7 separate regions of the Homo sapiens genome follow, and all the other regions are linked to region 3. The links come from fine-mapping of genetic effects on gene expression. A gene starts in region 3. Each other region holds a variant in brackets. All regions are shown on one strand. Distances are from middle to middle.

Evidence for each region.
Region 1: its variant is fine-mapped to the expression of TBC1D9 in whole blood (TOPMed, PIP 0.92).
Region 2: its variant is fine-mapped to the expression of TBC1D9 in whole blood (TOPMed, PIP above 0.99).
Region 4: its variant is fine-mapped to the expression of TBC1D9 in whole blood (INTERVAL, PIP 0.93).
Region 5: its variant is fine-mapped to the expression of TBC1D9 in whole blood (INTERVAL, PIP above 0.99).
Region 6: its variant is fine-mapped to the expression of TBC1D9 in whole blood (TOPMed, PIP above 0.99).
Region 7: its variant is fine-mapped to the expression of TBC1D9 in testis (GTEx, PIP above 0.99).

What each region holds. Positions count from the first base shown.
Region 1 is chr4:140,716,171-140,720,238 of GRCh38, reverse strand. The region is part of intron 1 of TBC1D9 (TBC1 domain family member 9); the gene reads left to right. Among named protein-coding and RNA genes, the nearest start is that of TBC1D9-AS1, 6.0 kb to the right of the region's middle. The variant T/A (reference allele first, on the strand shown) is at 1,699.
Region 2 is chr4:140,805,769-140,809,836 of GRCh38, reverse strand. No RefSeq gene overlaps it. Among named protein-coding and RNA genes, the nearest start is that of TBC1D9, 51 kb to the right of the region's middle. The variant T/C (reference allele first, on the strand shown) is at 1,791.
Region 3 is chr4:140,754,793-140,758,860 of GRCh38, reverse strand. TBC1D9 (TBC1 domain family member 9) reads left to right here and starts at 2,476. Exons shown (of 21, transcript NM_015130.3): 1 at 2,476-2,945. The coding sequence starts at 2,816. RefSeq lists enhancers at 1,954-2,003, 1,494-2,135, 2,136-2,778 and a silencer at 2,434-3,123.
Region 4 is chr4:140,703,965-140,708,032 of GRCh38, reverse strand. The region is part of intron 1 of TBC1D9 (TBC1 domain family member 9); the gene reads left to right. Among named protein-coding and RNA genes, the nearest start is that of TBC1D9-AS1, 6.2 kb to the left of the region's middle. The variant CAT/T (reference allele first, on the strand shown) is at 2,519.
Region 5 is chr4:140,784,068-140,788,135 of GRCh38, reverse strand. No RefSeq gene overlaps it. Among named protein-coding and RNA genes, the nearest start is that of TBC1D9, 30 kb to the right of the region's middle. The variant T/C (reference allele first, on the strand shown) is at 2,118.
Region 6 is chr4:140,796,824-140,800,891 of GRCh38, reverse strand. No RefSeq gene overlaps it. Among named protein-coding and RNA genes, the nearest start is that of TBC1D9, 42 kb to the right of the region's middle. The variant T/G (reference allele first, on the strand shown) is at 1,976.
Region 7 is chr4:140,640,903-140,644,970 of GRCh38, reverse strand. All of the region lies in intron 13 of TBC1D9 (TBC1 domain family member 9), which reads left to right. It also overlaps the pseudogene TNRC18P1. Among named protein-coding and RNA genes, the nearest start is that of TBC1D9-AS1, 69 kb to the left of the region's middle. RefSeq lists an enhancer at 704-1,377. The variant G/T (reference allele first, on the strand shown) is at 2,110.

The DNA.
Region 1 (4,068 bases), 39 kb after region 3:
CACAATCTGATGTCTATCCCAAACCTTTCAAGCACTCCCTTGCTATTGAGCTGATGGACTTACTGCTCCCCACACATCCCATGTGCCTTCCCACCTTGGGGGCTGCCTTCAGCCACCGCAATCGGTACTATTTATTGAACACCTACCAAGTGCCAGGTGCTGTGCAAAATTGGTTCATGTGCAATATTTCCTTTAATCCTCATTACAACCTCTCAGGAAGATACTATTATCTTCATTAAGTGGGTGAAGAAATTGTGGTTTTTATCAGTTATATAGCTTGCCCCAAGGTCATGACCCTAGGAAGCAGTGGAACAGGGATTCCACCCAGGTTCTTAATGCAAAGCCTGTGGTTTTGAAAAGCTACCTTCCACCAAACCCAACTCCAGGAGGCAGTTCAAAACAGTCTCCTGCATGAGTATGCCAGCCTTGGGTAAGTACCGTGTAACATCTTCTGTATTACCCTTGAGCTATGTACCCTTGAACTGACTGAGCAAATGACCATTCTAATGATTGCTATTTGTATGTGCTGCTTCTTTCTTCGCAGCCAGATCCTATTCTCAAAGACATCAGTGATAGATTATATTTCTAGTGCCCAGCAAAGCTTCCTCTCCACAGGTGCTCAGTGTCTATTTCATGATGCTAAGGATGAAATCACATCATGCCTCCAGGACTAAGGCCATATTTTTCCTTTACCTCTTCTAGACACTAATAATCATGGTGACTACTTCCTGGGATTCAGAACATAACTTTAGCAAGCACTTCCTTCCAGTGCCCAGCTTCCTTCTCTGTAGAAAAAGAAGATGCAAGTTTATGTCTTGACGCTCCTTCCCTGCTCCAAAATTAAGCATTATTTAAAGAAAAATCCTAGTTAGATTACATGAGTGAGAGACTCTACAGTTTTTGAAGCACTCCCATACACAGTATGTCATCTGTTTCTCAGCAGCCCTGGGAGACTAGCAGGGAAGATGAAATATCCCTGATGTAGTGGCAGGAAACTATGACTCAGAGAAGCTAAGTGACTTGTCTGAAGCCACACAGCTTGTGAGTGGGGAAATGAAGACTTGAATCCACTTTCTTTTATTTATTTATTTATTTATTTATTTATTTATTTATTTATTTATTTTGAGATGGAGTCCTGCTCTGTCGCCCAGGCTGGAGTGCTGTGGCATGATCTCAGCTCACTGTCACCTCTGTCTCCTGGGTTCAAGTGATTCTCCTGCCTCAGCCTCCGAGCAGCTGGAATTACAGGCACCCACCACAGCCAGCTAATGTTTGTATTTTTAGTAGAGACTAAAAATACAAATTTTTTTTGTGTTTTTACAAAAATAAAAACAGCCTTGCCATGTTGGCCAGGCTGGTCTTGAACTCTTGACCTTAAGTGATCCATCCACCTTGGCCTCCCAAAGTGCTGGGATTACGGGTGTGAGCCACCAGGCCAAGACTGAATCCACTTTCTCTGATTACTTTACACAACACTAGGTAGGAATATTAGGGACATTCTTATTGCTGTCATAGAAATAGGCCAGAACAAACATCTAAATGTTTTTCCTTAGACTGCTGGGTGCTCTTTCGGATTTAAGTTAAATGAGCTTAGTTTTTCTAGGGGTTTCCCTGGTGATCTTCTGGAAATTATTTGAAAATAGCCATGTTGGTAATTTCCTAATCATGTGGCTTGTTCGTTGTGAAAATGTTCAGTCA[T/A]TGTTGTTGCTTATTCATTGGACTGTCTGGGAAGAGCTAAGGAGGTATGAGGCCCTGGGTTTATGTGGGGTAATTATTACATGGAGGATTATATAGGGTAGCTCTGACTCTGTTTTCCTCAGGGTTCATTCAGAGGAGAGAGTAATGAAGACCAGAGATCCTCACACTTTTGCAAAGAGGGGATTGTTCTGTCTTAATAAAAATGTTCAAAGAACTAGCATAAAGATCAGGCAAATGTCCTGTGAGTCACCTCCCAATGTGCATAGCTGAATGTACTTTTTTTTTTTTTTTTTCTGAAAAAAGGAACAGAAAAAAAACTAGGTATATCACATTTAAATAAAATAAAGCATATTTCATTTAACTTTTTAAAAGCAAACTATGGGGAAACTATATACTATTTACTCAATTGAATTAGTATATACTAATTACTCAATTGAATCCCATCAGTATGCATTGAAATTAAATGTATAGAAATATTGTAGAGTAAAGCACTATTATCTAAAATGCTTTTATGCTTTATTTGTTCTAATACAGAGCTTTCTACCTATTTTCATATCATAGCATACTTAGAAAATGATAGTGTTTGCAGGGCACAAAAGGTATCCTAAGAGCCAAGAGAACAAGTATATTGCTAGCTTGTCATCATTTCCTGGGGTACCACTGGGAAGTTGTGACCTGTAGACTTAAAGAAATAAGTTGGGGGGCTCCTGGGGATACCATGGCTTTCCAGTCTGTCTTTCATGACTGCACTGTGTTCTACCCAGTGGGAACCCTGAGAACATGAAACACATACTTGTCCCAATCACATAATCTTCACGCTGCACCTGAGCTGTAGAAAGAATCTGTTTCCCTGATCTGTGTTCTAGATTTCATAGAGGCCCCGGCCTTCCACCAGCAAAGGAAAAGTTTTGAAGCCAGCAAGTTCTGAGATGAGATGCCTAGTGCTGCCCTTGCCCATTTTCAGCTGAAAGTGAAGGTTTATTGTACCCAGTATATGCTTCAGATAAATTAATTTGATAGTCATAAATGAAATATTGTCCCAACAGGAAAGCTGAGTCATGTCTAAAAGGATTATGCATGGTGAATTAGCCATTAACAAAGAATCATTGCCATTATTGAATCATTTATGTCATAGTTATTGAACAGGAAGGCCTCTACGGTTAGAAGAAGCAGCTTAAATGTTGTTGTTTTTATAACTGGAAAATTTTAAAAACAACAACTTGGGCTTTTCCCCTCTCCCTCTCTCTTTCCTGACCCCTCTCCCAACTCCGGCTCCAAAACAAGACAGGAAAGTTGGGCAAAAGCTCCTGTCTGCATCTCCTGGTTCAGGTAACATATGTTGATTCTCTAAAGGATTATGACTTTTATTTAGGGTGATGTAACAGAACGTGAGGAAGAAAGTGAAACCTTTGTTTATTCAAAGAGGATATTCTTTGAGAAACACTGGCATAAAATAAATTCTTGCAGGTGACTGTCTTTTAAAAAGTTTCAAAATATTTATTTTGATATAACCCAAGTCTTTCATTGTATTATTGTTTTATTAAATGCAGAGATAGGTTGAGACCAAACCTGGAGTTGCTTTTTTTGTTGTTGTTGTTGTTTGTGTTTTTTTTTTTTTTACAGCCCCCATTACTCTAAACTCAGTTTAAATGAGCATGTTTTAAATCAGCATAGTGGGTTGTAGAGGGTGTGGGTGTGTGTGTGATTTTTGCTTTAAGGAACTAGGTGTAGACAATATAATTAAGGGTGAAAAAAACGTAAGTTCTTCATTACTTTAAATTTCCCCATTCACTAATCAATAATATAAAAATAATTTCTCCCACCTTGTGTTTTTGCTCATCAGTTTCTAACTGAGGATGTAAGGAGTCAGTGATACTGTTGGTATCCTACCCCTCTGTTGTGACAAGTTTATAGCATGAAAAGAGAATGGTTTCCTGGAAATGACTTTGTAATTACTTTGCAAAGAAGGGCCCCCAACTCTAGTACACTACTTTTGTTATTGCCAATGATGATTTCTTCTCATCCATTATTGATATTTTTTTTTCTTTTTTGAGACAGGGTCTTGCTTTGTCACCCAGGCTGGAGTACAGGGGCACGATCATGGCTCTCTGCAACTTCCATCTCCAGGTTCGAGGGATTCTCTCACCTCAGCCTCCCAAGTAGCTGGGACTCTAGGCAAGCTCCACTACACCCAGCTGATTTTTAAAAAACTTTTTGTAGACATAGGAGTCTCACTGTGTTGCCCTTGCTGGTCTCCAACTCCTGGGCTCAAGCAATCCTCCTTCCTTAGCTTCCCAAAATGTTGGGATTATGGGCATGACCCACTGTGTCCAACCTATTATCAATGTTTTTCAAAACAGGTTTCAAGCT
Region 2 (4,068 bases), 51 kb before region 3:
GTCAGCCTCCATCTCAGAGCTGTGACCTTGCTGGATCTTGCTGCTTTGTGGAGCAGTGCTTAATATTTAGGGCCTTAAATTGAAATCAGGCACCCGAACAGATATTTGTACACCCTTTTTTTTTTTTTGAGAAGGAGTCTTTCCCTGTCGACCAGGCTCCAGTGCAGTGGTACAGACTTGGCTCACTGCAACCTCCACCTCCTGGGCTTAAGCAATTCTCCTGCCTCAGCCTCCCAGGCAGCTGGGATTACAGGCATGTACCACCATGCCCAGCTAAGTTTTGTATTTTTAGTAGACAGAGGGTTTTTGTCATTTTGGCCAGGCTGGTTTCAAACTCCTGACTTCAAGTGATCCGCCCTCCTCGGCCTCCCATAGTGCTGGGATTGCAGGCATGAGCCACCGTGCCCGCACCCGGCCTGTACACCCATCTTCATAGCAGCATTATTCACAATAGCCGAACAGTGTAAACAACCCAATCCGCAGATGAATGGCAAAACAAAATATGATGTAGAATAGACATACAATGGAATAGTATTCAACCTTAAAAAGGAAGGAAATCCTTATAAGTGCTAAAACTAAGTGAACCTAAGTGAAATAAACCAGACACCAAAGGACAACTATTGTATGATTGTACTTATATGAGGCACCTAGAATAGTCAAGTTTATGGAGACAGAAAGTAGAAAGGTAGTTACCAGGGACTGGAAGAGGCGGGAATTTAGAGTTGTTTAATGAGTACAGAGTTTTAGTCTGGGATGATTAAAAACTTCTGCAGATGAATGGTTGTGATATTTGCAAAACAATGTGAAGGTATGTAATGCCACTGACCTGTACGCTTAAAAAAGGTTAAGATGGGGCCGGGCATGGTGGCTCACGCCTGTAATCCCAGCACTTTGGGAGGCTGAGGCAGGCGGATCACAAGGTCAGGAGATAGAGACCATCCTGGCCAACATGGTGAAATGCAGTCTCTACTTAAAAAAATACAAAAAAAATTAGCCGGACGTGGCGGCGGGCACCTGCAGTTCCAACTACTCGGGAGGCTGAGGCAGGAGAATGGCATGAACCCGGGGGGACGGAGCTTGCAGTGAGCCGAGATCATGCCACTGCACTCCAGCATGGGCGACAGAGCAAGATTCTGTCTCAAAAAAAAAAAAAAAAAAAAAAAAAGGTTAAGATGGTAAATCTATGTGATAAGACAAAAACTTCAGCTGAATTAAATTTAAAGAAGTTTAATTGAGCAATGAACTATTCACAAATCAGGCAGCCACGTGGTGGAAGATTCATGGACAGAATAAGGAAAGGGAGGTTCGGAAACAGCTGGATTGGTTACAGGTCTGCATTTGCCTTATTCGAACACCGTTCGAACGGTTGGCTACATTTCATTGGCCAAAACTTGGTGATTGGCACAACTGTAGGCTATGGTCTGTTTACACCTCCACTTGTTATAGTTTACAATGTACAGCAAAACCTTTAGGCTGAACTTAAAATACGTAAGGAGGCAGCTTTAGGCTAAACTTGATTTAACATATGTGTCTTTTACCATAATTCTAAAAGAGAAGATTTAGGGCTTCAGGGTTAGCCCAATCTGCGTTCAAATTTATGTCTACCACTGACTAATGATACTGCTTTGACCTTGACCAAATTTGTTAGGCTAAGAGCCAACTTCCCCATCTCTGAAATGGAGATGATAGTATCACCTGCTTTACAATGTTATTGTAAGGGTAAATAGCACAACATATGTAAAACTCTGAGCCCAACACTCAGCAGATGGAAATGTTGAAAGAATGTTGTT[T/C]ATATTATTAGCTGTTATCTTCTGGGAGAAGAGAACTGAAACCTCTAAGAGGAACTAACAGTTTGCAATGCTCTGCTTTCTTTGGCTGAAGTTTTCATGACCCTCTGCATAAATAAACGAGTTTAAAAAAAAAAATCTTCTCAGTTGTGCAGATGTTCCTTTCCAAATATCCAAGTTACTCCAGGAAGCAGGAGAAAACAACTCCAAATCAGAGAAGACTGGACACATGAGTAGAACAGGAATAAAGTAAACATATCTTAAAATGCAAATAAACATTATCTGCAATAATGCAAAATGAACTTGCAACCATCTCGATTAAATGGGGGAAGAAATCCTGTAGAGTCTAACAACCAGGAGGTGGTACACGGCGATTAGCTGTCCAGCACCCTTTAACTTAGGCTGGGTTTAATGCTACTAACAGTCTATTTAGTTAGTATGCCCTCCACTGTTTGAGTTTAGAAAATGTGACAATATTCATAAGTTCCGCCAAGGTTGGTTCTTCTGTCCTACTTTTCCCATAAAACCTGTTACCCCACCATGGAATTTCCTACTACTTTTTAGGCTAAAGTTTCCGGAAAATAACATTTAAGTTTTATGGAGGGAATTTTGTTGTATCATTGGTTACTTTCTAAGTGATTGTTTCTTCCCAGTACATTTAATTTAACTGTCACCAGTTACACTCGAGTAACAGAGAACTCTGTTTTCTATCTGCAGTCTTCCCTTTGACTGTATCAAACAATGCAGATCTTCAGCTCTGCCACTACGCCAATATCTCCCAGCTCAATCCTTGGTCTTCAACAAACAGGATTTCCACTTACCTGCTCTAACACCTGAGGATAGATGAATATTTTCCTGCTTACCCAACACACTTTGACCCAAACTTAATCTACCAGTGTCTTTGCTAACCAGCTCACCTATGCTGCCTGGACCTCCTGTTTCCAGGTGGGAAACCAGGACTGCCATATAGAACCCATGGCCTGATGGCAGCACCTGGCTCAGCTTGCCAAGCTCTATGCTTAGGGAGGTGACTTTATCCAGTTTTCACAAAAGTTCTGCCCAGGTTGTAAATGGTCTAGTGGACGATCACAGATACCGCTATCTGTAGAACCTCTCTTTGCCATCTGGGTCACATCCAGTCGGTTGCCAAGTCCTGAAAATTATACCTCCTTATTAATTCCCACATTTGTATTCTCTGAAAAGCCCTGCTCAAGCCCTCAGTATTTCATGCCCTACACACAAAGTTCTAAATCATAGAGTATCAAAATATTCTATGGAGCTTTATAAAGTGCACACTCCCCAGCCCCATTTCTGGAGACTGTAAATCCACAGATCTGGGATGGGGACCGGGCATAGTTATTTTTAAAAAGCTCTACAGACAATTTTGATGTATGACTCTCTCTGGTTGAAACTACAATATTCAGCCTCTGGTCCCTCAACCCCCTCCCTCCCAACCATAGTTGACCATTTAAACACTGCTGTCCAGTGCATCTTCACTGTGAAGATGGTACTGCACTCTTGATCTTTGGGACAAAATTTAGAATCAGAACAATAACCAGAGCATATACTCTTTCCTCTTAAAGATCGCAAGTGATGAGGTTAATGACGCAGTTGGAGAAAATTCTGGTCTGACTAACACTTTCATTAGAAACTTGGTTGCTCTGCTTGGCTGGCTAGGTGTTTGTTTCTCAAGTTTCTCTCCATCCTGGCCATTGCTATCCTCTATCACTAAGACCATTGCAATAACCTTCTAACCGGTTTCCCAACCTTCTGTTTTACTTCCTACTCTGCACTGTCACAAGTGAATCCATTCTCTGCACTGCCCACAAGTGAAATCATTCTGGACGTAAATTTTAGCAAAACATTAATTATGTTTAAAATTCTACAGCGATTTCCCAGTACCTTGTGAGAAATTCCATACTCCTACCAAGGCCTTCCCAGAGCTGGCCCATGACTAATTCTCTTGCCTTATGGCTGGCCTTTATCCCTTATGTCCACTAGGCTCAAGGACCCAATAAAGTTCTTGTAGGTCCACAAATGCTTTGTGCTTCTCATCCCTGCACCTTTCTTAATTTTTTTTTAAAATAGGGATGGGATCTCACCATGTTGACCAGGCTGGGCTTGAACTCCCGGACTCAAACGATCCCACCTTGGCCTCCCAGACTGCTAGGATTACAGGTGTGAGGCCATCACACCTGGCCATCCCTGACCTTTCAACGCACTGTTCCTCTATCTAAGATATTCTCTCCAACATATCCCCTTTCCCTTTCATCTGACCTAT
Region 3 (4,068 bases):
AAGATTGTTGTAGGGGAAAAGGTGTGATATCTTTCCTTCCCATAAGGGTCATAGCCAACACACCTATAACAAAAGACAGGCTAACAAGAGAAAAGCACAACACATTTGTTTAATCAAAGTTTTAGGTGACATGGGAACCTTCAGAAATGAAGACGGAAAAACCCAGGGAAACCTGTCTATTTTTTTTTAATAGAGATGGGGTCTCTCTGGTTTAATACAGATGGGGTCCTCCTGGCTCTGCCTACCAAAATGCTGGGGTTGCAGGCATGAGCCACCATGCCCAGCCTGTTTATTTTTTTGAGAGAGTCTCGCTCTGTCCATTTTTGTGCTTAGGTTCAATGAAGAGTGGGCAGCCATGTAGATGTGGTTGGACAAAAGGGTAAGATCCAATGGTAATAGACTGAGAACAGACCCAGTCTGTCTGTTCAGATTCTTCTTGGCCTCTCCGTATAGCTTTCCCTCCTCCTGGGTTTAGAGCAGGACTCCTTTGGAAAGGGGACCTACTATCCAACAAGGTAGGGTAGATAATTTCTTTATTTCTCTATTCTTTATGTCTGCTCTTACACAGAAGAGTGAGGAATGGTAATATTTCTAGGTTTTGTAGCTTCCTTTGGGAAGAGGGGTTTTAGTTTCTATGACCTGCCTTTAGTTTCCATGACTCACTTTGGGGGAGAAAGAGAGGTGGGAGACAGGAGGGCAGAAGGAGGTCAGAGAGAAACTGCTTCTGAGGCCTTTCAATCTCCTTTAGTTCAAAGTACTCAGCATGCCAAAGCACCATGCTTTGTGGTATCATTTTCCAAACCCCAACATGGTATTAAGGCACTTAGAGTTTTTAAAAATACCAATTATATCAAGTAAAAGAATACCTATGGAAACACTTCAAAAATATAAAAGTTACATGATATATTAATATAATTTTTGCATATGTATGACTTATAATCTTATTGTTTGCTTTTTATTTGCAGATTTTGTGACTGAAGGCACTGCACTGTGACCAAAAGTGCCAAATGAGTTTTTTGAGTCTGTGTTAAATACATGAGGTTTCCACTGATGCCTGGAAGAAGCAGATCAGTCTGTGTGGTAACATCAAGGGAAACTTCCATTCCTTGAGAGCCCAAGCGGTAGGAAGCGAACAGATGAAATGGCAGTCTCATTAGAATGGCTGGTGATTTGCTCATTCGACTAATTGAAGGAATTCAACAATTCAAGTCGGAGCTACAAAAGTCACAATTTTGAAGCCCACACAAGAAGGTTTCATTTGAATCTCTGCTCATTTGGAAAGGGAAAAGTCCCTAGGATTGCCCAGCATCCACAACAAAGCAGAGTCTGCTAAATTCCCATCATTTGGGAAGAGGAACTTTTTTTTTTTTTTTTTTTTTTTTTTTTTTGGCTGAACTATCCTCCAGATCTCCTGGGCGGGAGGAAAAAAAAATGGTCATCAGATATGTAGGCAGATGGGCTGTGATCACCACTGGAAGCTCGAAGTATTTGGGGAAACTGAAACTGTCTAGGGATAAAGCTGCCCTGGTTTGTGTGTTTCTGGTTTCACTGATTAAAAAAAAAATCCATCTACCAAGAGTGGATAAATTTTAAAATTCTGCCATGCCCAGTTTTCGAAGCCCCAAATGCGATATAGGAACAGCTGTGGTGTGAATTAGTTGGTCTAAGCTTTTGGGCCGCTTCCAACTTCTCTATTGCTCACGCCCTACAGGTCAAGGAAAGAAGTGATGTAATGCACTTAGCTAGGCCACTTTAATTACAATGGAATGGAGAGGGGGGAGGGGTCACAAGCGGTGACAAGTTTAGCGCATGACTTGCCCTGGGGATGCAGGAAACAAAAACATCGACGACCATTGGCTGCGTTGGCTTCCGACCCCGGGTCTCTAACCGAGCTCCAGGTCTGGAACCTTGAAACACTTTTCCTGGGAAAAGGGGTGGCGCTATCCCATAGAGCGTCAACCTTAAACACAAACAGCACACACGCACCCACGCAGGCTGGCGGCGTCCTCCCTGCTGGGATGGGCGTCGGGCCCAGTGCTTGGCACACGGTCCCCAGGAGCTTCCCCCGAAGGTTCCCCCGAAGCCAGCCACAGCTGCTCAGCTCGGCGCGCGGAGCCCGCGGTGGTACCGAGTCCGCACAAACCCGGACCCGCTCCAAGTGAGCCGCGTTGTCGTCATTCATTCGCAGTGTCCGGAGCGTCCTTCCAGCGGGGAGCTGGGCTTCCCTAGTGGCGCCTGCGGCCCCGACACGGCGCGTTAAGGCGCGGCGACTTCGGGAGCTCGAGCAGGTAGAGACGGGAGGGGCTCTGGAGCTCCAGTCGGCGCCGCGGGAGCAGCAGCGCCGGAGCCCAGCTTGGCCCTGACCGCGGGGCCGAATCCGCTCGGGTGGCCCTTAGCCCTGCCTGGCGCTGAGCCGGATCCCGGGACTGAGCTATACCACTTCCTCCTCCTCCCGCTCCCTTCCTCCTCCTCTTCCTCCTCCTCCCGCTCCTCCCGCCGCCGTGGGCCGGGAGCCGGGCTGCAGAGTGCCAGGCCGGGCGTCTGCGGCCGCGGGCTCTCGCGGGGCGGCGACGCCGCGGGGAGGATGCTGCTTGCCGCGCCCGCGTCCTCACCGTCCTCCCGGGCCGCCTGCTGGGGCTTTGTTGTGGCCCGGACGCCGCGGGCCACCCCCTGAAGTCGCCTGCCGCCGCCGCCGCCGCACCTAGCGGACGGGCGGGCGGGCGCGCGTGTGCCCAGGAGTGCGCGCCTGTCGCGGTGGTGGGTGCAGGACTGGACCCACGGGCCCATTGTGCGCCCGCCCGCGGCAGCCAGGACCATGTGGGTGAACCCGGAGGAGGTGTTGCTGGCCAACGCGCTGTGGATCACCGAGAGGGCCAACCCATACTTCATCCTGCAGCGGAGGAAGGGCCACGCCGGCGATGGAGGCGGCGGCGGCGGACTGGCGGGTAAGGACCGTGGCCGATCCCTGCAGGAGGGGAGCCGGGAGCGCTGCGGCGCCGCCCGCGGCCTGGGCTGCAGGCTCGGGAGACGCCGCCCGGTCCCCTGGGGCTGGGCGACCCGCCCTGCCTCGTTGTATGCGAGGCATCGAGAGTCGTGATGTTCAGGTTGGGCAGAGATGCTTCTTTTTTTGACTCTGTCAGGCTTGGGGCCCTCAGCGTACTGAGCGCTCTTTAAGTGGATATGTTGAGGAGAATGGGAAAGAGTGAGTCTGGGGCGGAGGGAATGTATTATCCCCTATATATTGAATGCATCATTCCCTTCCCCTCCCCCCCTTAAAAATATTGTTTTCCAAATGGAAAAGAGGGATGGAAGAAGGTTAATTTTTGCTCCACTTTCTTTACTGGCAACAGCAGGATCAGGTATAAAATGCTCTTTTGTTTCCAGGGAAGCGATAAGTAAGGAACTGATGTGGTCATTTCCTATATGAGTTATGACCGAAGAGAATGAATACGGAAACAGGAATTTTTTTGTTTCACCTAATTAGACATAAAGCAAAGCAAATTGTCTGGTTCTAGTTGTAAAAATAATTGGCTGTATAACTGCATTTTAACTATTTTTGCTCAATCACTTCTTCCCTAAACCCCCTCCCTTCAAGGTATTATTGTAATTGTTGCTGAAGCCATGTCATATCATTCAGGATAATAAGATCAGTCAGACCCATATCCAAAGTAGTGCCATATTAGAAATAATCTCGAACTCATACCATACTAGAGAAATTGGACCTTCTCCATCTCTGTGTTATTTAGAATGAACAGAACTGGAATACTTTTTACAGTGAAAAAGTTAGCAGAAGAAATAGTAGAGGTTTCACTAGAAAGGAGACTGCAAAAAAGAGATGAACTTTGACCCTCCTCAGAGTTGAGCTTATATCAACCTCATATATCACCTGGAGTTTGCACAATAGGTAAATTGTTGCTTTCAAATGCTGTGCTATGAAATAAAGATTCTTGATATATGTATTTACTTATGATTATATTTATAAACTAATTTTCTTAAGATTAAAATTCAGGTGTCATGTGGTACAATGTATACTGGTATGTTTGAAGGATCTTGATTCTACCAGAAAAG
Region 4 (4,068 bases), 51 kb after region 3:
TGCTTGTCCTTAAATTGCCCAGGGTCTGGTGGGAGGAAACCATACTTTTTTTTTTTGAAGTAGGAAACAATGTAGTAATTACCTTAGTGTAATATAAGTCAAGATGGTTGGCAGAACCCAAAAAAGCTAACAGTTAATTGCCAGGAGATTTGGGGGGCTTGAGTGTTGAGAACATTGGTTGGGAGCGTGCCGGAGAAAACAGGGACACATGCATTAGGTGACCTTGACCTGGATATTGAGGGAAATAGAAGTTTGCCAGGATGAGAAACACTTGTACAAAGCCTTGGAGGCTTTAAAAAGTAACAAGCAGACAAACAAGGCTCATTAAAGAAGTGTAAAAGTTATGGTATGGCTAGAGAGTTTGTAGGTATGTCAGCAGCTGCTTCTGAATGTTTCCATTTAATTACTTTCTGACCAGTATCATGTAAGTGTTAAGACTTCTAGAGAATGTATCACTTACATCTAAGGAGCAGCAGCCAGAAGAACAGGTGGCAGCAGGTGGCCTACAGAAACCTACCATCTTCGCAGATAGTAAGCCAGGCATGGAAGTGATGCACTGGAGAGGAAGTACTGAGCCAAAAGTCTTGCATGTGTATAGAAGATATATAAAGAAGTAAATCCAAGGATACTGCATCTCTGGCTTTAGGGAGATCAGTGAATATTTGCTGAAATGAATGGAAATCCAGTATGTATATAAATGGAAGCTTCTAGATGGTGAACTCTGAATGTCTAATGGGACCTCTTAGCAAATGTCACCACAATGGGAAAGGCAAATAACTCACAAAAAAGGAAATTGGAATGGCCAATAAACAAGAAAATTAATTAGTAATCAGAGGAATGCAAATTTAACTAACAAACAGGTACCATTTCTCACTCTAGAGATTGGTGAAAATAAAAAAAAAAACCTGGTAATACTAAGTATTGGAGATATTATGGAGAAACAGGTATTCTCACACTTTCTTGAGCACTTTAGAGAGCAATTTTGTAATATCTAATAAGGTTTAGAAATGAACTTACCCTAGGACCTGACAATTCCATTCTAAAGAAATGTGCTTAGGTGCTTAAGGATTTATGCAAACAGAATACGATTACAGTTGCATAATAGAGCAAAAAGTGTGGATAGATCCAATGTCCTTTACTAGGAAAACAGATAAGTTGTAATATACTTATATAGTGGAATATTGCACAATATTTTAAAATGAATGAATCAGATTTACAAGTATATTCTGGATAAATTTTACAAACATATTGATTGAAAAAAATAAGCTGCAGTGTACCTTGCAGACAAATTTGTAAAATACTCATCAGTTTTAAATTTTTTATATGAAAAACATGGCTCAGTAAAAGTATAAGGACCTGGATAGGAAGAATACAAAACAATTTAAGAATGGTTAATGGAGAGAGGGAAATGGGATTAAAGGAGTGCAAAGGGAACCTCACTGTGGCTGTTACCTTTTCTTTCTGTTAAAAAAAAAAATAGATCGGAAGCAGGTAAGGCAAAGTGTTAAAAAAGTCAGAGTAGTGGTACATGTATTTTGTAATTTCCTGTACTTTTCTATTGTTTTGAATGATTCATTACACAATAGTGCTTAGTGCATACTAAGCACTTTCTAGGGTAGATACTATTATTTCTTTATCAGGAAGCAGGGGCACAGAGAGATTAAGGGACTGGCTGGTATGTGAGCCAAAGCTGAGCCCACTCCCCTGACCACTCTGCCATGGATTTCCTGGATCTCTGCTTCATTTTGGACCAGCGTCAGGACTAATGGAGTCGGGGAGGCCAAGTGATCTTTAGGATCCTGTCCAGTTTAACTTTAGCCCTGATCATCAGTAGATGGATCGATCATTTCCATGAGCACATTTCTGCATGGCAGCACACTCCTGACATAGCCCGGCCTGCAGAGGGCTGACGGGGGTTTCTCTGCAGCACTGTGGACCTGCCACCTGTACCAGCTCCCAGCTAGGCTGCAGTTGTGCAGTGGTGACTGTGCATCACACATCTTCCAGTGCCCACAACCAAATGGGAAGCAAATATGGAACAATTTTGCCAAGTGTTTTCTGAATCTCCTTGAAAACAGCACTTTTACATTATAAGATGCCACTGTACTAATGTAATAGGTAGATGCAGAGAAGAGTTATTTTGAGGGCTGTAATTTGATTTCGTTATCTTAGGCAATCAAGATTGTTTAACACCAGAAATAGCTGACTAGAACAGCTGCTAAAACAGCGCTTTGTGTGGGAAATGAAGAAAAGGTTCAGTATTTTGACAGCCATTTCCAAGGTATGAGTAATGAGACTTCTAAGAAAATCGTAATTGTTGCTGCTTTTGCAGTGGGGCGGGGGGATTCTCTAGACCAGATTTCCCATCTCCTAGTATTCTACATCAATAGAGGACAAAGGAGGAGTATTTCCTTTTTCCCAGGGTCTTGACTTCATGTACCAACAGAGTTTAGATAGCATGGTGATAATTTATTATTTAGGTTTAAAACGCACACACACACACACACACACACACACA[CAT/T]GCACACACCCCTCACTTGTCCATTTATCATCAACCATGTGTTTAGTGCTTACTGGACTCCAAAGTGCAGGGCCTGTGGGTCCAAAATAATCAATTAGACCCTGCCCTCAAGGAACTCTCAGTCTGGAGAGAAGAGGAAAAAATGGGACAAGGCAAAATGTGCAAGTAATCTTAAACAAATGTAATAGGCATTATAGAGGCAGAACTGGGAGGAAGAGTAGAGTAGGAATGAGACGGCATTAAAAGATTAGGAGTTTGCTGCTGTTTGAGGTCGGGGGAGACAAGAGCAGACAGACAAGCACAACATTTTGAGTGATCAGTGTTATCCAGGCATGAAAGGACTCAGCACTTCTGGGTTAATATGGAAAGAGTCTGTTTCTTGATTTGACTGGCCAACTGCATACCTCAATTCACAATATTACTTTCTGTTTGGATATCCAGTGCCTTAAATGTTCAGGGAATTTTCACAGAAATTCTCTCATTTAAATGTATCTAATGTGAATATCCTGATATTATACTTTCTGTAATTTACTTGAAAATATTTCAGCATGTACCTGTGCTACGTACATGTATATCTGTTAGTTTTCATCCAAGTCTTAGTGGAAGTTGGTGGCGCCAGTTGTGAATGCAGAGGTAGGGTTGGTGAACTTGCATCTAATGAGAAACCCTCACTCCAGGGGGCTCTGCTTTAAGCAACTGGGTTTTCTTTATCTCTAATTGACACCAGAGGCTTTGTTAATTAGAATAGTTTATGTTGAGGTTGGATTTTAGTTGGGAACATTGTGGTGGTGGAGATATGTGGATTGGGTTAGACCTTTTCAGAGGTCTTCCTTCTTTTGTGTTACAGAGGACAAAAGTTCAGTGAGCCATTAAGGATGATAAAACTGAGGCTCCAGGAGGAAGTGGCAGAGTCAGAATTGAAGCATTCTAGAACCAGGACTGCCCCTGTCCGCTGCTCTGCCCTGCCCAGTCAATTATGCTTGCCCTTGGAAGAGTCTTGGTCTTTGATGATACTCAGAGGCTTATTAAACCACACAGGCCGATTCTTTTTTGTCCTTTTCTTTTTTTTTTTTTTTTCTGATTTTTTGTTTTGTTTGTTTGTTTGTTTGTTTGAGACAGAGTCTTGCTCTGTTGCCCAGGCTGGGGTGTAGTGGCATGATCTCAGCTCACTGCAACCTGCGCCTCCCAGGTTTAAGCAGTTCTCCTGCCTCAGCCTCCCTAGAAGCTGGGATTACAGGTGCACACCATTGTGCCTGGCTAATTTTTTTTGGATTTTTAATGGGGAAGGGTGTTCACCATGTTGGCCAGGCTGGTCTTGAACTCCTGGCCTCAAGTGATCCACCCGCCCCAGCCTCCCAAAGTGCTGGGATTGCAGGTATTAGCCACCGCGCCTAGCCCACAGGCTGATTCTTGATTGCAACCCTCTAAACCCAGACTAAAGTTTGTATGCCTTAGAACCAACATATATGACACTTGTAGTAGTTTCAGCATTTTATTTCTTATTTTGATTCAAGATGTGAGAGGTATTACAAACACTCAATTATGAGT
Region 5 (4,068 bases), 29 kb before region 3:
GAGGCACCCCCCAGTAGGGGCAGACTGACACCTCACACGGCCGGGTAAACCTCTGAGACAAAACTTCCAGAGGAACAAACAGGCAGCAACATTTGCTCTTCAACAATATTCGCTGTTCTGCAGCCTCCACTGCTGATGCCCAGGAAAACAGGGTCTGGACTGGACCTCTGGCAAACTCCAACAGACCTGCAGCTGAGGGTCCTTTCTGTTTGAAGGAAAACTAACAAACAGAAAGGACACCCACACCAAAACCCCACCTGTACGTCAGCATCATCAAAGACCAAAGGTAGATAAAACCACAAAGATGGGGAAAAAACAGAGCAGAAAAACTGAAAATTCTAAAAATCAGAGCGCCTCTCCTCCTCCAAAGGAACGCAGCTCCTCACCAGCAACGGAACAAAGCTGGATGGAAAATGACTTTGACGAGTTGAGAGAAGAAGGCTTCAGATGATCAAACTTCTCCCAGCTAAAGGAGGAAGTTTGAACCCATGGCAAAGAAGTTAAAAACCTTGAAAAAAGATTAGATGAATGGCTAACTAGAATAACCAAGGCAGAGAAGTCCTTAAACGAACGGATGGAGCTGAAAACCATGGCACGAGAACTACGTGACGAATGCACAAGCTTCAGTAGCCGATTCGATCAACTGGAAGAAAGGGTATCAGTGATGGAAGATGAAATGAATGAAATGAAGTGAGAAGACAAGTTTAGAGAAAAAAGAATAAAAGGAAATGAACAAAGCCTCCAAGAAATATGGGACTATGTAAAAAGACGAAATCTACGTCTGATTGGTGTACCTGAAAGTGACAGGGAGAATGGAACCAAGTTGGAAAACACTCTGCAGGATATTATCCAGGAGAACTTCCCCAATCTAGGAAGGCAGGCAAATATTCAAATTCAGGAAATACAGAGAATGCCACAAAGATACTCAGAGAATGCCACAAAGATACTCAGAGAATGCCACAAAGATACTCCTCGAGAAGAGCAACTCCAAGACACATAATTATCAGATTCACCAAAGTTGAAATGAAGGAAAAAATGTTAAGGGCAGCCAGAGATAAAGGTCGGGTTACCCACAAAGGGAAGCCCATCAGACTAACAGCTGATCTCTTGGCAGAAACTCTACAAGCCAGAAGAGAGTGGGGGCCAATATTCAACATTCTTAAAGAAAAGAATTTTCAACCCAGAATTTCATATCCAGCCAAAATAAGCTTCATGAGTGAAGGAGAAATAAAATCCTTTACAGACAAGCAAATGCTGAGAGACTTTGTCACCACCAGGCCTGCCCTAAAACAGCTCCTGAAGGAAGCAATAAACATGGAAAGGAACAACTGGTACTAGCCACTGCAAAAACATGCCAAATTATAAAGACCACCGAGGCTAGGATGAAACTGCATCAACTAACGAACAAAATAACCAGCTAACATCATAATGACAGGATCAAATTCACATATAACAATATTAACCTTAAATGTAAATGGGCTAAATGCTCCAATTAAAAGAAACAGACTGGAAAATTGGATAAAGAGTCAAGACCCATCAGTGTGCTGTATTTGGGAGACCCATCTCACATGCAGAGACACACATAGGCTCAAAATAAAGGGATGGAGGAAGATCTACCAAGCAAATGGAAAACAAAAAAAGGCAGGGGTTGCAATCCTACTCTCTGATAAAACAGACTTTAAACCAACAAAGATCAAAAGAGACAAAGAAGGCCATTACATAGTGGTAAAGGGATCAACTCAACAAGAAGAGCTAACTATCCTAAACATATATGCACCCAATACAGGAGCACTCAGATTCATAAAGCAAGACCTTAGAAACCTACAAAGAGACTTAGACTCCCACACAATAATAATGGGAGACTTTAACACCCCACTGTCAACATTAGACAGATCAAGGAGACAGAAAGTTAACAAGGATACCCAGGAATTGAACTCAGCTCTGCACCAAGCAGACCTAATAGACATCTACAGAACTCTCCACCCCAAATCAACAGAATATACATTCTTCTCAGCACCACACCGCACTTATTCAAAAATTGACCACATAGTTGGAAGTAAAGCACTCCTCAGCAAATGTAAAAGAACAGAAATTATAACAAACTGTCTCTCAGACCA[T/C]AGTGCAATCAAACTAGAACTCAGGATTAAGAAACTCACTCAAAACAACTCAACTACATGGAAACTAAACAACCTTCTCCTGAATGACTACTGGGTACATAACGAAATGAAGGCAGAAATAAAGATGTTCTTTGAAACCAATGACAACAAAGACACAACATACCAGAATCTCTGGGACACATTCAAAGCAGTGTGTAGAGGGAAATTTATAGCACTAAATGCCCACAAGAGAAAGCAGGAAATATCTAAAATTGACACCCTAACATCACAATTAAAAGAACTAGAGAAGCAAGAGGAAACACATTCAAAAGCTAGCAGAAGGCAAGAAATAACTAAGATCAGAGCAGAACTGAAGGAGATAGAGACACAAAAAACCCTTCAAAAAATTAATGAATCCAGGAGCTGGTTTTTTGAACAGATCAACAAAATTGATAGACCGCTAGCAAGACTAATAAAGAAGAAAAGAGAGAAGAATCAAATAGATGCAATAAAAAATGATAAAGGGGATATTACCACTGATCCCACAGAAATACAAACTACCATCAGAGAATACTATAAACACCTCTATGCAAATAAACTAGAAAATCTAGAAGAAATGGATAAATTCCTGGACACATACACCCTCCCAAGACTAAACCAGGAAGAAGTTGAATCTCTGAATAGACCAATAACAGGCTCTGAAATTCAGGCAAAAATAGCTTACCAACCAAAAAAAGTCCAGGACCAGATGGATTCACAGCTGAATTCTACCAGAGATACAAAGAGGAGCTGGTACCATTCCTTCTGAAACTATTCCAATCAATAGAAAAAGAGGGAATCCTCCTAACTCATTTTATGAGGCCAGCATCATCCTGATACCAAAGCCTGGCAGAGACACAACCAAAAAAGAGAATTTTAGACCAATATCCCTGATGAACATCAGTGCAAAAATCCTCAATAAAATACTGGCAAACTGAATCCAGCAACACATCAAAAAGTTTATCCACCATGATCAAGTGGGCTTTATCCCTGGGATGCAAGGCTGGTTCAACATACACAAATCAATAAATGTAATCCGGCATATAAACAGAACCAAAGACAAAAACCACATGATTATCTCAATAGATGCAGAAAAGGCCTTTGACAAAATTCAACAGCCCTTCATGCTAAAAACTCTCAATAAATTAAGTATTGATGGGACATATCTCAAAATAATAAGAGCTATTTATGACAAACCCACAGCCAATATCATACTGAATGGGCAAAAACTGAAAGCATTCCCTTTGAAAACTGGCACAAGACAGGGATGCCCTCTCTCACCACTCCTATTCAACATAGTGTTGGAAGTTCTGGCCGGGCAATTAGGCAGGAGAAGGAAATAAAGGGTATTCAATTAGGAAAAGAGGAAGTCAAATTGTCCCTGTTTGCAGATGACATGATTGTATATCTAGAAAACCCCATTGTCTCAGCCCAAAATCTCCTTAAGCTGATAAGCAATTTCAGCAAAGTCTCAGGATACAAAATCAATGTGCAAAAATCACAAGCATTCTTATACACCAATAACAGACAAACAGCCAAATCATGAGTGAACTCCCATTCACAATTGCTTCAAAGAGAATAAAATACCTAGGAATCCAACTTACAAGGGATGTGAAGGACCTCTTCCAGGAGAACCACAAATCACTGCTCAATGAAATAAAAGAGGATACAAACAAATGGAAGAACATTCCATGCTCATGGGTAGGAAGAATCAATATCATGAAAATGGCCATACTGCCCAAGGTAATTTATAGATTCAATGCCATCCCTATCAAGCTACCAATGACTTTCTTCACAGAATTGGAAAAAACTACTTTAAAGTTCATATGGAACCAAAAAAGAGCCTGCATCGCCAAGTCAAATCTAAGACAAAAAACAAAGCTGGAGGCATCATGCTACCTGACTTCAAACTATACTACAAGGCTACAGTAAC
Region 6 (4,068 bases), 42 kb before region 3:
TTTTCACTTCCCCATTCCAATGTGAATGAGGGGGCAGCCCACACAGCAGACACTGTGGGAAATGTTCAGCTGCCCAAAGAGCTGTCCCCCTCTCCTGCGTTCCTGTCTCCCCCATTTGCAGTCCCAACTTAAAGTTGAACCAACTTGTGTGTTTTCTTTGTCCTGACAAAAGGAAAGGGAACTAATCCTCATTGGCGTCATCCTCTGTGCTAGCATTTGGCATGAGTTTTCTTACTGGTTCTGGAAAGCCAGGCCGCATCACAGCAGCTATTTAAAAATCCAGGTCTGGAACTTGAAATAATGAATTTGGTAACCATTAGCATGGAAGAAAAACATAAAGCCAAGAAACCTCCTTTAAGAGAGAAAACTAGGCAGATTGCTAGTGTCAAATTGCTACAGAGAAGTAAAAAAAAAAAAAAAAAAAAAAAATATATATATATGATTGGGAAAGGTCAGAAGATTTGGAGTGCATAATAAAATTGGAATGACCTAAAGCCCATCTGTTTTGTGGTGTGGTGTATAGTGGATTAAGCTCATGGGCTTTGAAATCAGATGGTCTGGGTTTACCTGTGTATTCATTCATTGTGTAAATATTGATTTGGTATTACTATTTGCTATTCTCTGTACTCATGGTGTTTATATTCTAGAAGAGATAGATAACAATCATGTAAACAAGTAGATATATAATAAATACTATTGATTAATTCATTCTCCCAATACATACTACAGTTATCTAGGAGATAGGGTCAGAAAGGCAACTAAAGCCAGAGAGTTTAGGATCTGGTAGTCCATTGTGAGGGCTGTGGCTCTTACTCTAAATGAGACAGGAACCTATTGGTGGGTGTTGAGCAGAAAAGTGACATGATCTGACTCATATTTCTAAAAGATCACTTTGGCTGCTATGCAGAGAATAAGCTGAAGAAACCTAGAGCAGAAGCAGGGAGATCAGTGAGGAGATTATCACAATAATCTCGGCGAGAAGCAGTGATGGTGATGAGGCCGGGGGAACCCCATGGAGGCAGTGTGAAGTGTTTGCAGCCGGGATCTAAGTTGAGGGTAGAGAACAGGATTTCCTGACAGATTGGGCAGGAGGAATGAGAAAAGGAGAGAAGTGAAAGGTGACCCTAAACTTTCGCTCTGAGGGATTGGAAGACTAGAGGTGCCATTCATTGAAATAAAGAAGACTGCAAGAATAACAGATTGAAGGAAGGCGGGAGGAAGATCAGGGCTCATTTTTGTAAGTTTATGGTAAACTCGAGGAAGTTTATAGACAGCCAAGTGGTATGTCAAGTTGGAAATTGGTTATCACAGCTTGGAGTTCAGAAGAGAGGTCCATGGACTAGGCGTGAGGGCTCATGCTTATAATCCCAGCACTTTCGGAGGCTGAGGCAGAAAGACTGCTTGAGGCCAGGAGTTTAAGACAAGACTGGGCAGCATAGTGAGACCCCCATCTCTACAAAAAATAAAATAATAAGCTGGGTGTAGTGGCATGCAGATGTAGTTCCAGCTACTTGGGAGGCTGAGGCAGGAGAATCACTTGAGCCCAGGAATCCAAGGCTGCAGTGAGCCACGATTGAGCCACAGCCTGGGCAACAGAGTGAGACCTTATCTCTAAAAGAAAAAAAAAAAAAAAAAAAAAAAAAGAGGTCCAGGCTGAAATAAACAGCTGCTAAACTAAAAGGAAAAATGAGGCAGGCTGTTGGAGATAAAGATCAATAAGGGTTAAGGATGCCATTCTAGATAGGAGAGCTAAAGACCTCACTGAAAAGGGATATTTGAACAGAGACCTGGTTGAAGGGAAGGAGAAACCCACTCAGTTATCAGAGGGAAGGGGAGCCCAGCAGAGGAAAGAGCACACTCAGGACTAGTGGAGAGCATGCTTGGCTTTGAGAGGAAGAGCCAGAAGTTCAATGGGGTCACCAAGAGATGGCCTGGTAAGGATATAAAACCAGAGAAGTAGCAAGGGATTACATCA[T/G]GCATTCCAGTCCTTGCTCTGCCACTTGCTAAGAGTACACCCTGGCTGGGTGCAGTGGTTCATGCCTGTAATCCCAGCACTTTGGGAGGCCGAGGTGGGCAGATGCTTGAGGCTAGGCATTTGAGATGAGACCAACCTGGCCAACATAATGAAACCCCAGCTCTACTAAAGATACAAAAATTAGCCAGGTGTGATGACACACACCTGTAGTCCCAGCTATTCGGGAGGCTGAGACAGGAGAAACACTTCAACCCAGAAGGTGGAGGTTGTAGTGAGCCGAGATCGTGCCACTGCACTCCAGCCTGGGTGACAGAGCGAGACCCTGACTCAAAAAAAAAAAAAAAAAAAAAAAAGAGTACACCCTTAGATAAATTACGTACCTTTTCTCAGCTCCATTTTCTTTATAATGGGGTAGTAATGGAACTTACCCACTTAGGATATTGAGAGAATCAGATGAGATCACGTACACAAAGCATTTAACACAGTGCCTGCAGCATAGGTGAAATTTCCCGGGTATTCACTAAGTACATTTCAAAGTGTCCTGCAGCATCTCCTGTGTGGTTTCTGGGTGAATAATTTCATCTCTCTGGGAAGTTTGGGTTTTGTGGTTGGTGTTAGGCTCCTCAGCTCCTCAGCTTCCATTTTGCTGGTCCTGCTGGCACAGTCACCCATCTGGTAGTTTGTCCTTGATAACCACAGCTCATGGGCACTTTCGGATGGGCAGGGGAGTCTGGGAGATCCACAGTCACTGACTTGAATTGCAGATGGTGTGACTCCGTGCTCACCCACAACCTCCAGCTCGTTGGTTCTAACACTGGATCTCCCCCCCGCCAACAAGGGTTACTCCAGGGTTGGCAAGACGTCCAGTCAAGTCATTCCATCCCCAGATAAGCTCTCACCAATCTCTTGGCAAGAAACCCAGTCACATCTGGCCTTGACTAATGATATTAGTCTTCACCCTGAATCTCAAGGGAGCAATGTCCCAGAGGCTTCTACTCTGGATGTTCCTTCCTCCCTACTCAACTGGCATAAAAAGGGGAGGGTTAAAACACAGAAGTTTGCTCTACTTAAGCATAGCTATGTTGGGAAAATGCATTTCATTTCATACATCAAATGTAAGTTAAGACCCCCGACACAATATCCTGGGAACACCCTGATGCAAGGTTAAGGGGGGAAAACTGTAAAGATTGAGGGAAAGAGAGAAAAAGGAGAGCAGATAAAATGAATTTTTATTAAGTCTTACCCAACATTGAGTCAACCATTCAGAAAAAAAAAATCAGATAATATGCTAATGACTACAACCTAGCCAGATGCTAACACACACCCTCTATTGTGCTTCAGAGTGAACCAGGTTCATCCTTTCTCAGGAGAGTCTGACCATTGCTCTTCCAATTTTCAGTACGAAAATGTGATAAGGAATGAGACCAAGTCAAGGGCTACGGAGAACAGGAAAAGCTGAATGCAAGCAACAATCTGACTGTCAAAGACGAACTAAGCTGGACACTAGCTAAAGCCAGAAGGATAGATTTTATTCAGTAATAACTATCGCTATAGGGAAGGAGTCCAGCAGGAACTGAACTTTAGCTTCAATGAAACAGAAGGAAGAGACTTTTTTTTTTTTTTTTTGACAGAGTCTTGCTCTGTTGCCCAGGCTGGAGTGCAATGGCGCAATCTCAGCTCACTGCAACCTCTGCCTCCCGGGTTCAAGTGATTCTCCTGCCTCAGCCTGCCAAGTAGCTGGGATTACAGGCATGCGCCACCACGCCCGGCTAATTTTTATATTTTTAGTAGAGACAGGGTTTCGCCAAGTTGGCCAGGCTAGTCTCAAACTCCTGACCTCAGGTGATCTGCCCGCCTCAGCTTCCCAAAGTGCTGGGATTACAAGCGTGAGTCATCGTGCCTGGCCTTCAACCTGAAGAAATCTTGTCATATGTCTCCATATATGATCTCATGTTCTCATCCTTTAATTCCTTTTCTTTCATTTGAAACAATGTCCTAATTTACTTCAGTGTAGAAAAATGGCCTCCTGATAAAAAGATTGTAAAACATGCTGAGAAACCTACTAAGAAAAAGATTGTAAAACATTTCATCCC
Region 7 (4,068 bases), 110 kb after region 3:
ACCCCTGGGGCTTGGGACCTCCATCTCTGCACTAGGGCATGGCCCCTGCGTTCCCACCCAGCCTGGGGGCTCCCTGCTGTCGCCCTACCAGTTTGTCAGGGACTCCCAGTCGGGCCAGCTGTTGGTCATTCCCAGAGATCACCTGCCTCACTTTGCGGAGCTGATGGAGCGGGCCACCGTGCTGCCCCTTTGCCCCGCCCTGTACTCTCCAGGCTGCAGCCCCCTGCACCAGGCCCAGCAGTTGCAGCTCTTTTCGCTGCAGCACTTCCTGCAGCTGCAGGAGTTCCTGTACCTGCAGCAGCGGGCGGCCCAGGCCCTGGAACTGCAAAGAAGCACCCAGCTGGAGCGGCTGAAGGCGCAGAGGAGTACCAGGCAGAGATGGAGGAGAAGTGGAGCAACTGGGGCCTGGGGGCCGGGGGCAAGGCTGGCCTGGCCACCGCTTGCCCTGGGATGCTGCTGCGAAAGCCCCCCGCCTGGCTGCCGGCCCTGCGAGCATCTATGGCAAGGCGGTGAGCCCGCCGCCATCGCCCCGCGCGTCCCCCATGGCCGCCCTGAAGGCCAAGGTCATCCAGCCGCTGGAGGACGTGTCCAAGGCGCCTGCCTACACCTACCCTGCTACCCCTAGCTCCCACCCCACCAGCCTGCCTCCCCACTCCCTGCTGTCCACCCCGGGTATCACCCGCAAGGAAGAGACCCCCGACAACGTGGTCGAGAAGAAGGACTTGGAGTTGGATAAGGAAGCCCCCAGCACTTTCCAGGCCTTGTTCTCAGATATGCCGCCCAGGTATCCGTTCCAAGCCCTGCCACCACACTACGGGAGGCCCTACCCTTTCCTGGGGCAGCCCACAGTGGCCGCCGATGCGGATGGCCTGGCCCCTGATGTGCTGCTCCCAGCTGATGGGACCAAGCGCCTGACACTCTCGCCCGAAGACAAGCTCATCCTCCTGTCCCCCTCCAAGATCCCAGAGCCGCTGCGGGAGGACCCGGAGGAAGAGCCGCTGGCTGAACAGGAGGCGAAGGTGGAGGTGGAGGATGTGGACGAGCGCCCCGCAGAGCTGCCGCCTCTGGAGTTGCCGCTGCCACTGCCCGCCATGGAAACCATGGCTACCCCGAGCCCTGCAGGCGGATGCAGAGGTGGCCCGTTGGAGGCCCAGGCGCTGAGTGCCACCGGGCAGGGCTGCACCGAGCCCTCTGAGTGCCCAGACTTTGCGGAGGGGCCTGAAGCATGCGTGGATTCCCCGGGCCGGACAGAACCCTGCACGGCCGCATTGGACCTGGGGGTGCAGCTGACACCCGAGACGCTAGTGGAGGCCAAGGAGGAGCCAGTGGAGGTGCCTGTGGCGGTTCCTGCGGCAGAGGCAGCGCCGGAGGAAGGCCTGGCCCAGGCGGCCCTGAGCGAGCCCCAGCCCAGCCTAGAAATGTCAGACTGTGACGTGCCCGCCGGGGAGGGAGAGTGCCCGAGACTGGAGCCCCGGGAGGCCGTGCCTGTGCCCGGCAGCACCTGCTACCTGGAAGAGGCAAGCTCTGAGCAGTTCCTGCCCGGCCTGGAAGACCCACTGGCTGGCATGGAGGTGGCCATGGAGCTGCCCCAGGCCAGGCCTCTGCCCTCCCCAGGTGCTACTGGAGTCCAGGCCTTGGAGAAGCAGGAAGCTGCCGAGAGCCTTGTCTTGGAGCAGAGCTTTCTGCACGGCATCACCCTGCTGAGCGAGATCGCAGAGCTGGAGCTGGAGAGGAGGAGCAAGAAGGTGGGAGGTGCGGAGCGGGCCCTGGTGGCTCGGCCCTCACTGGAGAGCCTGCTGGCAGCCGGCAGCCACATGCTGAGGGAGGTGCTGGATGGGCCCGTGGTGGGACCCGCTCAAGAACCTGCGGCTCCCACGGGAGCTGAAGCCCACAATAAGTACAGCTGGATGCGCAAGAAGGAGGAGCGGATGTACCCCATGAAGTCCTCCGTGGAGGACATGGACGTCCTGGAACTGGACTTCAGAATGTGGCGGGCCGAGGTCCAGCACCAGTACAAGGAGAAGCAGCATGAGCTGGTGAAGCTGCAGCGGCGCCGGGACTCCGAGGACAGGCACGAGGAGTCCCATGGAAGCTTGGCACGCAGGCCGT[G/T]GAAACAGACCCACGCCCCCGAGAGCCCTGTCGCCCGCCCGCAAGAGGGGGAAGAACTGCAACAGTAGCGGAAAGCTGAGCAGCAAATCTCTGCCGACATCAGATGACTATGAGCTGGGAGCAGGAATAAGGAAGAGACACAAAGGGCCCAAGGAGGAACACAATGCCCTTATTGGAACAGGGAAAGCCAGGGAGAGGAACCAGACTTGGGATGAACACGAGGCTTCGTCTAAGTTCATAAGTCAGCTGAAGATTAAGAAGAAGAAGATGGACAGCGACCAGGAGCAGTTGGCAAGCAAGCTCGACAAAGGCCCTCTCCCTCACCAAGCAGGACAAGTTGAAGTCACCCTTCAAGTTTTCAGACAGTGCTGGGGGGAAATCAAAAACTGGCAGGGGCTGCAGCAAGTACTTAACTCCTTATGACAGCCTGCTGGGCAAGGACAGGAAGGTGCTGGCCAAGGGCCTCCGGCCTGTCTCTGAAATCTTCCAGAGAAGGTAAACACAAAAGGGCCGCCAAAGCCAGGAAGATAGGGGTGGGGTTCAAGGCCAGAGGCCAGCCCAAGTCGGCCCATTCCGCGTTTGCCTCCGAAGTGAGCAGCTACTCTTACAATACAGACTCAGAGGAAGACGAAGAATTCCTGAAGGAGAGTGGCCCGCCCAAGGCCCCTCCGGCTAGCTCCAAACTGATGCCTTCCCTCCTGTGTGGCATGGTGGCAAAGGACAGCAAGGCAGCTGGCGGCCCCTAGCTGACCAAGAGGGCCTGGCACACACCCCCTCCTCCGCCCCCTCCCGGACTCTGAAACCTAAGCCAGCCACCAGCAGGAAGCAGTGGTTTTGTTTGCTGCTTCGAGAGGCTAAGGTGCATTCCTCCTTCAGCGACTCTTCGGAAGATTCATTTGACTAAGGTTACTATCTCCAAACACAAAATACTTTCTGTGTTTCCTAGCGAGAGAGTGCCTGCGAGTGAGCGAGAAGGAAGCGAGTGGGCGCACGGGAGAGATGGGGGGTGAGGAGGCCCGTGCGGATGGCCGCAGGAAGGCCGCCATCTGGGTTCTTGGCAGTGTAGCCTGCTGTATCGGCCAAATTATTTTTATTTTTGCTTTGATTTGTACTGTATCGTTGTGATAATATCGCCGGCTAGCTCTTTTTGAGCTGTTATATGGACTGCTTCTGAGTCTGCATTTTTCTCCACTTTCCTTCCTCTCCGCCCTCCTCCCCCTACCCCGAGTTCCTCCCCACCCCCATACTCACCTTTTCTGCCCACCCAGAGACCCCAGGCTGTGGTCAGGCTCTCTTTGGGCACGGGCCCAGTGGGGGCTTCCCGAGAAACATTTTATAAATGGAATTCTGTCATGTGGGCGTGTGACTTGATGTTTGTACTGCGATTTTGATAATACCAAACTTTATTAAACATACTGAGTTCATTTTTAACAACAACAATAAAACAAAAAGTGGAGGTGATAAAAATGGTTGCAAATTCCTGGGGAGTAGGTATTGATAAAGAGGTCAAAGGCTCACAAAGGCACTCTTTTTAAAGCCTCTGTTTTAATACACTCATGTAACTGTTTACTCAGATCAAAAGATAGAACGTGCTAGCAACCTGGAAGTGCCCCTTGTGCCCCTTTCATATCACTGTCCATCCAACCATGGTTAATAAATCTCCAGACTTCTAAAAGCGTAGATGATCTTTGATTTCTTTTGAACTTGATACAAATGGAATCTCACGGAATATGCTCTTTTGCTTCTGTTTTTTTTTGTTTTTTTTTTTTTTGCTTAGTATTATGATTGTAAGATTTAAATATATTGTTCTTTTTATTGCTGCAAAATAGTTGATTATGTGATGATATTGCCATTTCTTTATCCATTCTGTGCATGAGCATTTGAGTGGTTACTGACTTTTGGTTAATAGTGTCACTATTAATATTCTAGCATATGTCTTTCGGTAAAGTAAAATAAATC